Linked DNA regions of Homo sapiens: region 1 is linked to region 2. Evidence: fine-mapped expression QTL. Tissue or cell type: tibial nerve. Region 2 holds a variant in brackets; the other region holds the start of a gene. All regions are shown on one strand. Distances are between the middles of the regions.

Region 1 (7,509 bases), 55 kb after region 2:
AAAAGTGGCTGACCACCGGGCCGGTGGTAAAGTCGGCACAAATTCCACGATGTAATGCTGGGAACCAGAGAGCAGGCAACTCGTCTAAACTCTAGCCTCAGACTCTCTCCTTGCTGGACATCTACCCCACCCTCTATAGCCCCCAACTCTGCATCCCATCCTGTAGTTAAGCGTTCGAAAGAAAACAGCAGCAGCAATTCAATGCTCCTAATCCCTATGCAGTGTGACTTTCAGAGAGAGAGTTTGGCTTCTCTGAACCTGGCTCCCAATCCGTAGAGATAGGGGTGAACACTCCGGGTGCCAAGTCTTTGGGGTCACTCCCTTACCACCCCCACCCCCATCCAAGCCTTGAACCTCGAGAGGGCAATGAGGGATGTGTGAGGAGAAGGATTTCAGAAATTGCTCACCTGGCACGTGTCAGCCCCTTTGCTGCTGCCTGCACAGACCATGCCATCTGTGATCTGCCCCGGGTAAGCATCCTCACACTTCTTCTGGGGAAAGATTTTTACTTCTGCACAGTTGAGAGTGTCAGGAAAATTCTCTGAGGGGGAAGAGGTTGTAAGGTTCCCTGAGAGAGCAGCCCTTTGCCTCCATCCCTGTCTGGATCTAACCCCCTTTCTTTCCAGGATGTAATGGGGGAGTTTTCCAGCTGCATGGGGGAATTTTCTGACACTGTGCACAGGGGACATCACTTCTCACCACATTAAACGAAGCTGTACTTGTTGCTATTGGGCTTTCTCCATCTAGAGAGGGGCCCTTGGATCTCACGTGTTTTTTCTTACCCTGAGCCATTTTCAAATCAAGGGGCTGGGGGTTACTTGGAGGTGCCCCTTTATGATACCTCTGACCCTCTCTTTCCAGTCTTCCTGCCCTCAGACAACCGGGTCCTCAATCTGTGCTAAATCCTGCTCCTTCCAAGTGTCACCTCCTCCTGGAAGCCTTCCCTGACCACTCGAATTAAAAAATACCATCCCTCCATTACTCCCTATCCTTTTACGCTCCACAATATTTCCTTACAGCACTTTGCCTAATGTTTTATTTTATGTGTATTTGTTTATTGTCTATTTCTCCCACCTAGCTTGCAACTCCATAACGACAAGGACTTTGTACAGTTTGCTCATGGCTGTATATCCAGCGCCTGCAACAGCACCTCAGGCATACTAGGTGCTCAGTAAATAAGAGTTGAATTAATGATTGAAGGTGGAATTGATCTTTTTTATTAACCTCTTTTGAGGAATAGACTTCTCCAAAGCCTCTTTGAGGGGGAAAAACTTCCATCTGGCATCTCTACGTGCCAAAAGCAATATGCTCATAATCTCATTTAATCCTCACAACAGCGCTTTGAAGGAGAGATGCATTCATTCATTTCATTATTTATTCATCAGGTCATCCATTCAACAAATATTTATTGAGCATCTACCATGTAGCAGGCACCATTCTGAGCACTAGGAGAACACAATGAAGAAAACTGATGTAACCTGAACCCTCACGTAGCTAAAAAATCTATTGGTTAATGATTCCCATTTTGCAGATAAGGAAAGTGAGGCTCAGAGATGGAAAGGAATTTGCCCAGGGAGAAAGGGCAGAGCCATAGTTTGAACTGATCTACTTGATTTGCGAGCACGTGTGTTTCCACAGCCGCAAACTGTCTCATCCAAAGCATTCAGAGCAGGAGTGAGGCAGGCAGGGACCTGAATGCTGACTTTGCCACTTCCTGGAGAAGCTCCTTGACTCTCTTAGGTGAGTCCCAATGTTTTCACTGTGAAGGAAGGCGAGGGGCTCTCTGGATTCTGGAGTCCCAAAGGGACAGCTTCATTGGAGGTCCAGATTTTGGGGTCCAGAGTCAAGAGGGAGCTAGGACTGCTGGGTCCTGGGAGAAGAAGGGCCTAGACTCCCGGGTCTGAGGGAAGAGGTGACCAGGGCCCAGGTTTCCTGGGTTCAAGAAGGAGAAAAAGGCCAGGGGCGGTGGCTCATGCTTGTAATCCCAGCACTTTGGTAGGCCGAGGCGGGCAGATCACTTGAGGTCAGGAGTTCGAGACCAGCCTGGTCAACATGGCGAAACCCTGTCTCTACAACAAATACAAAAATTAGCTCGCGTGGTGGCGGGTGCCTGTAATCCCAGCTACTCGGGAGGCTGAGGTTCGAGAATCGCTTAAACCCAGGAGGCAGAGATTGTAGTGAGCTGAGATTGTGCCACTGCACTCCAGCCTGGGCGATTGAGTGAAACTGTGTCCCCCTGCAAAAAAAAAAAAAAAAAAAAAAAAAAAAAAAAAAAAAAAAAGGAGGGAGGTGGGGGAGAAGGTGCTTAGGAGCCTGTTTTCCTGGGCCTCTGAGAAGTCCAAATATCCCAAGTGTGTTAAGATTATATAAAATCCTATACAACCAAAGGTCCCATAGGGTAGTGCTCTCCGCCATACAGGATGGGCTTTTCTGGCCCTGCTTAACAATCTGCTAGTTGGTTCTTTCTCTCACCACTCTTGTTAGTAGTCAGATCTTCGAGGCTTCTCATATGACTCCTGCTTGTGAATCTCAACATCATGATCACTTTCCCTTCTTTGTCTCCCTCTGGGGGACCAAGCTTTGCCAATAGCTTGGGTTCCACTGGGCCAACCAGCTCCTCCTCTCCCTCCCATTAGTGGACAAGCCCACTACCTCGGGGACTGGTGACAGTGCCCCAGCCTGAGACGGTGCACTTCTGGCCAGGCTGGGTGCAATGATCTGCCAGGCTGATGGGCTTCACTTTGGACCCCAGGGATGCCTGGTCACGCAGTTGAAGAAGCATCAGATCATGGTTGTGGTCCTCCACATCGCTGCTGTTGTAGCAGGGGTGTGGGATGGACTGAACCACAGGTATTTCTTGCTCTGGGCCATCTTTATTCTGTAGGCTGTGGTCTCCCAGGCGTACTGTGTATTTCCTGTAATGGTGGGGATAGTTTGGGACCCAGGCAGGGGTATTGCCCCCAGCCCCCTCCTCCTTCAGACCCAGGAGTCCAGTCCTCAGCTCTCTCCTTCCTGAGTCGAAACCCCAGCCCCCTCTTTCCTTAAGCCCCAGCTGACCTCTGCCCCCATCATCCACTCACGGTTTTTTACAGTGGGCAGCTGTAAGGACCCAGTTGCCACCTACAAGGACACCGCCACAGAGTAGTTGCTGGCCCTGGAACAAGGCCGCCTGCCAAGGCTGCGAATGGGGTTGGCACTCATGACCCCCCAGCACCTTGTCCTCCTGTGCCCTGGAGTGTCCTGCAGCAGGAGGGAGAGGGTTGGATCGCCACCCTCTGGGGCAGTGCGAGGGCTGGGAAGGCCACTGTGGGTTCAAATGGACACACGGCAAGTTCTCCGCATACAACTTAGTGAGGAGGTCCAGGCTTCCACACGCTGCCACACGGGGACACTCATTTCAGTCCATGTGTCATCATACAAGAGTCACACACCCAAGAATGCCCCCACATGCTTCCACATGAGTCTACAGGCCCCGAGTACTCCCAGGTGAATCTATGCCCCCAAGCAAGCAGCCCCCAAAGGCTGTAGCTATTCAGACAATTTACAGCATCACGGAACCTACTCCTACCTGCTGCTACCTGTTTCTTGCCTCTGTCCACCCTGAGGAAAGCCCACAGAGGCTCCTGCACCGTATCGCACTCTTCACATCCGTGCACACGCACCCACATAACCCCCGCGGCATTCCCACAGACTCCCCAGCGCCACTGCTGCCTTCAGATCCCTCCCCTCCGGAGGCCTCCGCAACCCTCCTCACCTGCCCAGGCTCCCCCCAGCAAGAGCAGGAACATCCACGTCTTGGCCGCACGAGGTCGGGGGCGTCCCATGGTGAGGTCTGGGAAATGGAGAGGGCGGGGCCGGTAAACAGGAAGGAGGAGCCTGAGCTCCCAGTTCTGGATTTGGGCACTGGGGAGGCAGCCGAGAGTATCTGGGGCTGTTCTGGGCTTCTCTGGAGGAAGGAGGAGGCTGGGGGACTGGATTCCTACATTCCAAGGGAGGGGGGAGTCCTCGATGTCTGGGTCTGAGGGGACAGGGAGCTGGGAGCTGGGACTCCTAAATTAGGGAGAGGAGGAAGCCGGGGTCCAGACTGCTGGATCTCGACAGAGAAGGGCATCTGAGGCTGGGGTCCTGGAATCTGGAGAAGGAGGGTCCGGGGCCTGATGTCTGTATCTGAGTACCTCTGCACCTCACCTTCCAGAATCCAGGGGCGGGGTCACCTACTGATTCGGACCCAGTGGAGGAGGCCCCAGTACTTCAGTTCTCTGCCTGGTACACGATTCTGGAGCCTTTTAACTGGGAATCTCCACCTCCTGCTCCTCCTCCTTCTCCTCCTGCACTAGAGCCTGGGGAGCTTCTGGGAACTGGAACACTGGGTGTGAGTGAGAAGGGGCGGAGGGGATTGAACGTGAAATCTTGAGGGAGGAGGGGCTGGAATCTCAGACTCCTGAGGCTAGGGAGAGGAGGGACTCGGTGCTGAGACTCTACGATCTGAAACATAAAGGGCTGGGGGCCAAGATTTTAGTTCTGAGAGGGGAGGAGGCTGGGGGCCTGGATTCCTGGGTCTGAGGGAGGAGAGGCTGGGGGCCTGGACTCCTAAATCTAAGGGAGGAGGGACTGGGACCTGGGATTTAGGTCTGACCGAGGAGGGGCTGGGGGCCCAGACTCCTGGGTCTGAGGGAGGAGGGGGCTGCTAGGGGCCAGGACTCCTGGGTCTGAGGGAGGAGGGGCTAGGGGCCTGGATTCCTGGGTGTGAGGGAGGAGAGAGCTGGGGGCTGAATTCTAAGTACTTTTAAAAGGAGAAGCTTGGAACCTGATCTTTTGTGGGAGGAGGGGGCTGCTGCCAGTAACCGGGAACCGAAGAAAGGCAGGTCTTCTAGGGTCAGAAACCAGAGGGTGGATCAGGCCCCGCCCGCTGTCCCCTGAGAGGTCCGGGATCTGGGAGGGCAGGTTTGGGAGGCACTGTGACCTGGTTTCCCCTTCCCCTGGAGGCGGCAAGACCAACCCAAGCAGAACCCAGGAGTCTTGCTGCAATAGGGCTGATGGACAGAGACTTTAGGCAAAACTTACTAGGGGTTTAAGGGGGAGTTGCAAGGCGGTACCGGTTCCCTCATCTGCCCTTCACCGCCCACCCGTTTGCTCTCCACTCATCTCACAGCTCAGGCAGAAAGAAGGTGAGGTTTCCCGCGTTTACTGAAAAATCATCCGTTGCATTGGCTCTAAAGGTATCCAGACCCTCCCTCAATTTCCCCCCAGGTCTCCGCCAGGATTCAAACCCAGCACACGCCCAGGACGGGGCCACAAGGGGCTGAGCTCTACACCGCCCGAGCTCCACGTGGGCGGAGCTACTGCGCCCCTGACATCACGAGGGGCGAGATCTCTGGTGAAGGAGGCGGGGCCACAAGGGGTGGAGTCCCGAGGGGAAGTCCCACTGGGCAAAGTTCCGAGGGGCGGAGCTATTTTGTGTAAGTGGTTCCTTGGGGCGGAGCCACAGGCTGTGCTGTTCCAAGAAGGAGGTGATGGCTGTCGGTGACGTCATAGAGACGGGCTCTGAAGGGCGTGTCCCTGCTCCGTTCCGAGGGGGCGCGACTGTGTCTTGCTTGACCTCGTGAGGGGGCGGAGCCTCAGGGGCGGAGTCTTAGTGTCCAGAGGGGAGTCAGGGCAGCTGGAGGTCCAGGGCGGGAACCATTGAGGCTGGGACCCTACGAGAACCCCCTACCCCGTGCCCTTCGGCCTCTCTTGGTCTTCCAAGGTGCCCCCGTGGCGCGCGGGCTCAGTTCTCCATGATTTCTTGGATCCAGTCAAGGTAGTGGCATACGCTGGTGTAGACTGCGGGGCGCCGGGGTCTGGAGCAGGGCTCAGCACCCCCAGACACCACGCCTGCCAAGGTTCCATTGCAAACCAGGGGGCCCCCAGAGTCACCCTGTACGCGAGAGAAGGGCAGAGGAACTGTTAGGCCACTCTGTTCATGACAATTACACGGGCCACTTCCTCCCTCCCAGAAAGGCCCCAGCCCCTTCCTCCTCCAACATCCGAGAGTCCTCCATCTCCAGCCTCTTCTTCCTCAGACCCAGGAGTAAAAGCTCAGAGGGCCCACCTCCCCGCAGGACCTAACCTCCTCCTCCCCGAGGACTCAGACTCTGGACGCCCAGCCCACTCCTCCTGTAGATCCAGAAGTCTGGACCTCCAGACCTTTTCTCTTTTACACTAAGGAGTCCAGGCCCTGGTCCCGTCCTCTCCCAGGAACCAGGTATCCCAGTCTCCTTCTCATTTTGACCCAGGAAGGCTGGGGGCCGACCCCTCTGCTCCCCTAAATCCTAGAAAACTTGGCAGGACAGCCTCATTTTCCCCAGAGTAAGGTCTCACCTGGCAGGAACCTCGGCCCCCCTCCCACAGGCCCGCACAGAGCATGCTGTCCGAGATGTGTCCAGGGTATGCCCAGTGACAGAGTTTGTTCTCCAGGATGCTGATGTTGGCACACTGCAGTGTGACTGGAAACAGCGCTGTCAGGGAAGAGAACTGTCAAGGATCTGCAACTGTCTCCAACACACTCAGCACCCCACTGCCCTGAGTCCTCCCTGCAGCTTTTCCAAAGGACCAATGGAGCCACATTTAGGACTCTCAAAGATAGAGACAAGAGACAGTGACAGACAGACAGTCATAGCACACAAGAGAAACAAATGGAGACAAGGAGGAAGAGGGCCAAGTAGAGAGAGAGGCTGGCCGGGCACCGTGGCTCATGCCTGTAATCCCAGTGTTTTGGAGGCCGAGGCCGGCGGATCGCTTGAGGTCAGGAGTTTGAGACCAGCCCAGCCAACATGGTGAAACCCCATCTCTGCTAAATATACAAAAATTAGCCAGGCATGGTGGCAGGCGCCTGTAATCCCAGCTACTCGGGAGGCTGAGGCACGAGAATCACTTGAACCTGGGAGGTGGAGGTTGCAGTGAGCCGAGACTGGTCACTGCACTCCAGCCTGGGAGACAGAGCAAGACTCCGTCTCAAAAAAAAAAAAAAAAAAAAAAAAAAAAAAAAAAAAAAGAAAGGAAGGAAGAGAAACAGAAAGATGCATGCAGAGAGCCAAGAGATAAGAGGAGATGCATATATAACTCCCTAGCACTTTGGGAGGCTGAGGCGGGCGGATCACAAGGTCAAGAGATTGAGACCATCCTGGCCAACATGGTGAAACTCCGTCTCTACTGAAAATACAAAAAATCAGCTGGGCATGCTGTTGCACACCTGTAGTCCCAGCTACTCGGGAGGCTGAGGCAGGAGGATCACTTAAAACCCAGGAGGTGGAGGTTGCAGTGAGCCGAGATCACACCACTGCACTCCAGCCTGGGCAACAAGAGCAAGACTCAGTCTCTTAAAAAAAAAAAAAAAAGAAATAGAAAAAGACCCAGACCTCAAGGGGTGGAATGAAGGCAGTGAGATAAAAGGAAAGAGATTTGCAGGAAGATGGTCACTGATGGAGACAGAGACATAGACAGAGATACCAGATACAGTGTAGTCAGTAT
Region 2 (7,509 bases):
CGTGATCTCTGCTCACTGTAATCTCCACCTCCCAGGTTCAAGCAATTCTCCTGCCTCAGTCTCCTGAGTAGCTGGGATTACAGGTGCATGCCACCATGCCTAGCTAATTTTTGTATTTTTAGTAGAGAGGGGGTTTCACCATGTTGGCCAGGATGGTCTCGATCTCCTGAACTTGTGATTCGCCTGCTTTGGCCTCCCAATTATCTCTCTCTTTATTGTCTGTCTTCCACTCCTGGAATGTGAGCTCTACAAGGCAGGAACTTTTTGGTCTGTTTGGCCCAATGCCTTATCCCCAGCACATGGAACCATTCCTGGTGCAAAGTAGCCACATGGGCCCGGGTGTGGTGGCTCATGCCTGTAATCCCAGCACTTTGGGAGGCTGAGGCGGGCAGATCACTTGAGGTCAGGAGTTCGAGACCAGCCTGGCCAACATGGTGAAACCCTGTTTCTACTAAAAATACAAAAACTAGCTGGGCGTGGTGGTGGACGCCTGTAATCCCAGATGCTTGGGAGGCTGAGGCAGGAGAATCGCTTGAACCTGGGAGGTGGAGGTTGCAGTGAGCCGAGATTGTGCCACTGCACTCCAGTGTGGTTAACAGAGTGAGACTCCATCGCAAAAAAAAAAAAATAATAATAATAAATAAATGAAAATAAAAAATAGCCACCTGGCCAATATTTATGAAGAAGGTGAAAAGTAGTCTGACTGGACCTCTGTTTCTCACAACCCAAGTGACCTCATAGACAAAACACATGAGCCTGGAGGCGGAGATATGACTTGTTCACAGCCACCCTGCACAGGGAGGAGACACAGGAAGATTCCACTTCTCAGTTTATTTCTGGGACTAAATTTGGGTCAGAGCTGCAGAGAAGGGATGGGCCCTGAGCTTGAGGATGAAAGTGCCCCAGGGAGATTGAGACGCAACCCCCGCCCTGGACAGTTTTGGAAATTGTTCCCAGGGTTCAACTAGAGAGACACGGTCAGCCCAATGTGGGGGAAGCAGACCCTGAGTCCAGGAGACATGGGGTCAGGGGCTGGAGAGATGAACATTCTCAACATCTCTGGGAAGGAATGAGGGTCTGAAAGGAGTGTCAGGGCTGTCCCTGCAGCAGGTGGGGATGCCGGTGTGCTGAGTCCTGGGATGACTCAGGAGTTGGCCTGGATGGTTTCCTGGATCCACTTGGTGAACTTGCAGAGGTTCGTGTAGACACCCGGTCTGTTGGGCCGGGCACAAGGGTAATCTCCCCAGGACACGAGTCCCTGCAGGGAGCCATTGCAGACCACAGGCCCCCCAGAATCACCCTGCAGGAGAGAAAGGGGGGCATGAGAGAGGCAGAGATGTGGCAAAGTGGGCAGAAGGAGACATGAGAGACCCAGAGATGCCCATAGATGGAGAAGCAGATGGGAACAGACACACAGAGATGGAAAGTACAGAGATGAAGAAATGCAGAAAAAGACAGAGATGGAGACACAGGCAAAAGGAGAGAGAGGGAGAATGTTATTAATATTTCACTCCAAATCCAGCTTTTTTTTTTTTGAGATGGAGTCTTACTCTGTTGCCCAGGTTGGAGCGCAGTGGCCTGACCTCAGCTCACTGCAGCCTCCATCTCCCGGGTTCAAGCAATTCTCCTGCCTCAGCCTCCCAAGTAGCTGTGACTACAGGTGTCCATCACCACACCCGGCTAATTTTTTGTATTTTTTTTGTAGAGACGGGGTTTCACCATGTTGGCCAGGCTGGTCTCGAACTCCTGGCCTCAAGTGATTCGCCCACCTCAGCCTCCAAAGTGTTGGGATTACAGGCGTGAGCCACCATGCCTGGCCTCCAAGTTCAACCTTTAGACCCCATTTGTCACTCTCCACTCCATCTTCCTCTTCCAGATTCCTGTTGTCCACACATCATTTCGGGGGGGTCTGTGACCCTTCCTCTCCACATCTCGAATCTTCGTCTCTACTTTCTGTTCCAGCCTGTCTCCCTCATCGTGTATCTCTCCGCCTCCCTTTCTCTCTCACTCTCCCCTCCAGCCTGTGCAGGCCTTATTTCTCTTACTGGACACACACCTTCCTTCCCCATTCTCCACCAACCCATCCTTATACCTCCCTTCTGCAAAAATACGGTTCTCAGCCCCTGGATGAGGGTTCCTCGATCTGGGCACTGTGGGCATCTGAAGCTGGATAATGGTTTGTTGTGGAGGCCTGCCGTGTGCATCATAGCATGTTGAACAGCACACTTGGCATCTATCCATTAGTTGCCAGTAATGCCCCTCCATATAGTTGTGACAACCAAAAATGTCTCCTGGTATTGCCAGTGTCTTCTAGGGGCAGAATCACTCCCAATAGAAATCCATTCGCTTGGACTAATTTGTGTTTCCTGTCTTCAATTCCCCATACCTCCCTATAATTACCCTCCTATAATAATACTCACTGCTCTTCAACAGTCATTTTTTTCCCTCTTTTCCTTCTTTCCTTCCTTCCTCTCTCTTTTCTTTCTTCTTTCTTTCTTTCTTTTTCTTTCTTTCTCTTTCTTCCTTTCTTTCTCCTTCCTTCCTTCCTTTCTTTCTCCTTCCTTCCTTTCTTTCTCCTTCCTTCCTTCCTTTCTCTCTCCTTCCTCCCTTCGTCTCTTTTTTTTTTCTTTCTGACAAAAACGTCTTGCTTTGTCACCCAGGCTGCTGTCTGGAGTGCAGCAGTGCAGTCATGGCTTACCGCAGCCTCAAACGTTTGGGCTCAAGCAATTCTCCCACCTCAGCCTCCCAAGTAGCTGGAACTACAGGTGCAAGCCACCACACCCGGCTAATTTTTTTTTTTTTTAATTTACTACATATTTATCTATCTCTTTATTGCCTGTCTTCCACTTGGGGAACATGAGGTCCACGCGGCAGGAAGTTTTTGGTCTGTTTTGCCTGATGCCATATCCACAGCACCTGGAACCATTCCTGGTGCAAAATAGCCACTCGGCTAATATTTATGAAGAAAATGAAAAGTAGCTTGAGTGGACCTCTGTTTGAGGTAGAGAGAAATGTCTATCTCCCACCTGGGCACGGTGGCTCACACCTGTAATACCAGCAATTTGGGAGGCCGAGGCAGGCAGATCACTGGAGGTCAGGAGTTCAAGACCAGCCTGGCCAACATGGTGGAACCCCATCTCTACGGAAAAAAAAAAATAGCCAGGCATGGTGGTGGGTGCCTGTTATCCCAGCTACTTGGGAGGCTGAGGTGGAAGAAATGCTTGAACCCAGGAGGCGCATGCTGCAGTGAGCTGATATGGTGCCATTGCACTCCAGCCTGGGTGACAGAGCGAGACTCCGTCTCAAAAAAGAAAAGAAAAGAAAAGAAAAGAAATAAATATGTACATACTACAATAATGATGTAAGTGGTATGAATAAAATCTACTAAAATAAAAACAATTAGTATTTTTATTTTTTTAATTTTTAGTTGCCCAGGCTGGTCTTGAACTCCTGAGCTCAAGTGATCTTCCCACTTCAGTCTCCCAGAGTGCTGGGATTACTGGCATGTGCCATTGCACCCGGCTTCATTTCTTACTTACATGCATGCAAAATATGAATTACAGAGTCCTGGTATCAATTATTAGGAAAGCCAAGACTTGCCTTTTTCCCAGTAGCAGACACTGTTTCAAAGCAAACAAGCTTAGCTGCCTGTACCTCTAAATTTCAACTTTCTTGTGGTTTAATTTCTCTCATTATTTTTTAAATTTAATATCTCTGCAGAGTTTCTTTTGAGAGGCTGTTAGTTAACTGCTCTGAGCCTTGGCTCCTTGTTTGTAAAATAGGGCCAATAATAACAGGTAAATGAGTTAATGAGCTGAGGCATGCAAACCACTTAAAACAGTGTCCAGCAATTAGCCAGATGCTATTATTTTTATACTATTGGTATTAGTATTGTTGTAGTTGTTATTATTTCTTGCTTGTAGCTTTTAGTGGCCACACCCAGACCACA[CA/C]CCGGTATGAAAAAACAAACAAAAAAACACCTTGAGGTCTGGAAAAACAAGATACTAACCTTGCCTACAGAAAGGCTAAATAGTTTTAAATGCCACCACTTGAATGAGATGTGATTTCTTTTCTTTTCTTTTTTTTTTTTTGAGACGGAGTCTCACTGTGTTGCCCAGGCTGGAGTGCAGTGGTGCAACCTCGGCTCACTGCAAGTTCCGCCTCCCGGGTTCAGGCCATTCTCCTGCCTCAGCCTCCCGAGTAGCTGGGACTACAGGCGCCTGCCACCACGCCCGGCTAATTTTTTGTGTTTTTAGTAGAGACAGGGTTTCACCGTGTCAGCCAGGATGGTCTCCATCTCCTGACCTAGTGATCCACCCGCCTCGGCCTCCCAAAGTGTTGGGATTACAGGTGTGAGCCACCACGCCCGGCCGAGATGTGCTTTCTTCTGTTAAAAGTTTTCCCCCTCGCAACCCACCCCCCCACACCCAGGGCACAGAGAAGAAATGGGGAGAGCTGGGGAGGTGTTGCATTTGTCAGGTTTGTACAATTTGGGGGGAGCTTTTCATAGCCATGGGACTGGAGTACTCCTGAATCCCCAGCTTCCTAACTACTGTTGAAACACACACCCTGCTAATGAGAGCTTGTTAACTTACGTCCTTCTAGATCCCTTGGGAGCCTGAATACAGAGAAGGGTGCTGGTTGATGTAACAGTTTGATTTTAAATTCTGTCTTCCTCAACAGATACAGCTTCCATTAGAACATAGGGAAGCTCTGTGTTGGTGACCAAGAAATACTTGCAGAGCATTCGCCCCTGCCTACACCTCCAGCGTCACTTTCTACTGTTGCCCCCACTTTTGTTCTCCAGTTGCATTGGTTTCCTCTTCTTCTTTGAATCAGCCAAATTCCTTACTGCCTCAGGGCCTTTGCACGTGCCTTTTCTTTCCCCTTAAACTTCACGAGTTTAGCTTCTTTGTGTCATCCATTCTCTGCTCAAATGCCACCTCTCCAAGGAGGCTCCCCTGACCACCTTTTTGAATATTGGCCCTTATTGTTTACTATCCTAAAACCATGTTTTATTTTGGGGTTAACCTTTACCACTCTCTGAAATTGCCCTATTTATGCAGATTCTTGACCACAGAGTTTTTTATTTTTTAACTTTGTTCCTCCAGCCCTTCCAGCAGCTTTGCAATTAATCCCCTGTATTAAATATTCTCTTGTAAAAATACCTACCAGATTTCTCTTTTCCTTCCTCAAGATATTTTACCAGCACTTGCTAGAAAACTGTCATATTACAGATTTTGTTGAAACAAGACACTTAACTACCACACGCCTGAAAACTGCCAAAACTGACATCTGTAACACGGAGTGCCCCTATTAGATATGGTATCTTTATGCAGTGCACAACCTGCCCAACCATACAAAACAGCCCTGATCTTTCCCTCTAGATCCGTGCCATCCAATACAGTAACTGCTAGCCACATGTGGCTACTGAGCACCTGAAATGTAGCTAGTCCAAATTGAGATGTGCTGTCAGCATAACATATATACTCACTTTCAAAGACTTAATATGAAAACAAGAAAAGAATGTAAAGTATCTCATTCATAATTGTTTTATATTAATTACACTTTGAAATGATTGTATTTGGGATACATTGGGTTATTAAAGTTAACTTCACCTGTTTCTTTTTTACTTGTTTTTTTTTTTCTTTTTGAGACAAAAGTGTCACTCTGTCTCCCAGGTTGGAGTGAGTGGCACGATCTCAGCTCACTGCAACCTCCACCTCCTGGGTTTAAGTGATTCTTGTGTCTCGGCCTCCTGAGCAGCTGAGATTACAGGCGCCCGCCACCATGCCAGGCTAATTTTTGTATTTTTTTTTAGAGACAGAGTTTCGCCATGTTGGCCAGGCTAGTCTCAAACTCCTGACCAAAGGTGATCTGCCTGCCTCAGCCTCCCAAAGTGCTGGGATTACAGGTGTGAGCCACTGCGCCCAGCCTTTTTTACCTGTTTTAATGTGGCTACTAAAAAACTGGAAATGACATAAGCAGCTCAGCATTATTTCTACTAAACACCACTACTCTAGGGTATGAGCTCTGTGAGAACAGGGGTCCTGACTGTCTTGGCAATTGCTGGATTCTCAGAATTTGGCAACGCTCCATGTTACCGAGTTGGCACTCAGTGTGTATCTGCTGAATAAAGAGAGGTGTCCTCACCTGGCAGGAGTCTCTACCTGCTTTGTCACCGGCGCAGAACATGGTGTCATCTATCTGTCTCGGGTAAGCATCCTCGCACCTTTTCTGACTTAGCACGCTGATATTCAAGCACTGGAGGACCTTAGGGAAGTGCACTGTCAAACAGGAACACAATGAGAAGTGGAGAAAGATGGAAGGCGGCAGAGATGGGTCGGTATCAAGAAGAACCTGGACACTCACCTTGGGGGCTCTTGGTTGTCCCCCAGCCAGACACCAAGCACTTTGTCCCAGCAGAGGGACAATGAGAGGAGACGTTGATGGGTCTGACATCTTTAGTGGGACGAATTCTTCTGTTCAGTTTGATGAGCATGAGGTCGTTAGAGTGGCCAGGGTGGGAGTAGCCAGGGTGGGGGATGGATTTGACCCCCTGGAACATCTGCTGCCCAGATTCATAAACTGGTGACAGGGAGTAGTGGCCGAGACGGACTCTGAAAACTCTGAGGAAGATGGGGCAGGTCACCACCAACCCTGATCTCTATCTCCACGTCCAACGCCAATCCCAACCCCACACCCAGCCCCAGCCCCACCCCCATCCCCACCCCCGGTCCCCAAACCATCCTCAACTCCCTCTTGGTCTCCAATCCCATGCCTGTCCCCATCCCAGTCACAATTCCAAACCCATCCCATTCCCAACCCTAATTCTTTCCCTACCCAGAAGCCATCACCATATGCATTCTCAAGCCCAAATCCAACCATCTCCAACCCCACCCAAAACTCCAATCCCCATCCTTCATTCTATATCTGCTCCCAATCTCAACCCTATCTCCATGCTATCTTCATTTCCACCCCAGCCCGATTTTCACCCACCCCCAATTCTAAAGCCAATCCCAATTCCACCTCCATCCCAAACCATTCAACAAATATATGCTCCTAACCCCAAATCCAACCCATCCTTGGCTCCTTCCCATTCCCTACCACAACACTCTCCCCTCTCCAACCTCATCCTCCCACCTTGCTCCCCCGCAAAACTCCATCCTTAGTCCTATCCCCAACTCGACCTCCTCCTGCTCCCACATCCCCAACCCATCCCCACCAACCCTCACCTTCCATGACACCCCCAACCCCACTTCCCCGTCCCCACCAGCCCTCACCTCCATGACACCCCCACCCCCACTTCCCCACCCCCACCCCCACTTCCCCGTCCCCACCAACCCTCCTCTTGGAACTCCCACTCACTTCTTCCTGCAGTGGGCGGCCGTGAGCAGCCACTGTGGATGCACCAACACCGCCCCGCAGTAGAGCTGGTTGGGCCTTAGCAACAGCGCGGCCTGCCACGGCTGGGTGTGCATATCGCAGTCGGATCCATTGATGATGCGG

Evidence for each region. PIP is the estimated chance that this variant, and not a neighbour inherited with it, causes the effect.
Region 1: it holds the start of KLK8, and the variant in region 2 is fine-mapped to the expression of KLK8 in tibial nerve (GTEx, PIP above 0.99).

Annotation. Positions count from the first base shown.
Region 1 is chr19:50,997,344-51,004,852 of GRCh38, forward strand. KLK8 (kallikrein related peptidase 8) reads right to left here and starts at 4,261. Exons shown (of 6, transcript NM_007196.4): 1 at 4,189-4,261; 2 at 3,755-3,832; 3 at 3,081-3,240; 4 at 2,653-2,915; 5 at 408-541. The coding sequence starts at 3,824. KLK9 (kallikrein related peptidase 9) reads right to left here. Exons shown (of 5, transcript NM_012315.2): 4 at 6,361-6,497; 5 at 5,165-5,917. The coding sequence ends at 5,768.
Region 2 is chr19:50,942,487-50,949,995 of GRCh38, forward strand. It overlaps KLK5 (kallikrein related peptidase 5), which reads right to left. Exons shown (of 6, transcript NM_012427.5): 3 at 7,369-7,509; 4 at 6,373-6,629; 5 at 6,154-6,287; 6 at 817-1,300. The coding sequence ends at 1,145. Among named protein-coding and RNA genes, the nearest start is that of KLK5, 6.8 kb to the right of the region's middle. The variant CA/C (reference allele first, on the strand shown) is at 3,950.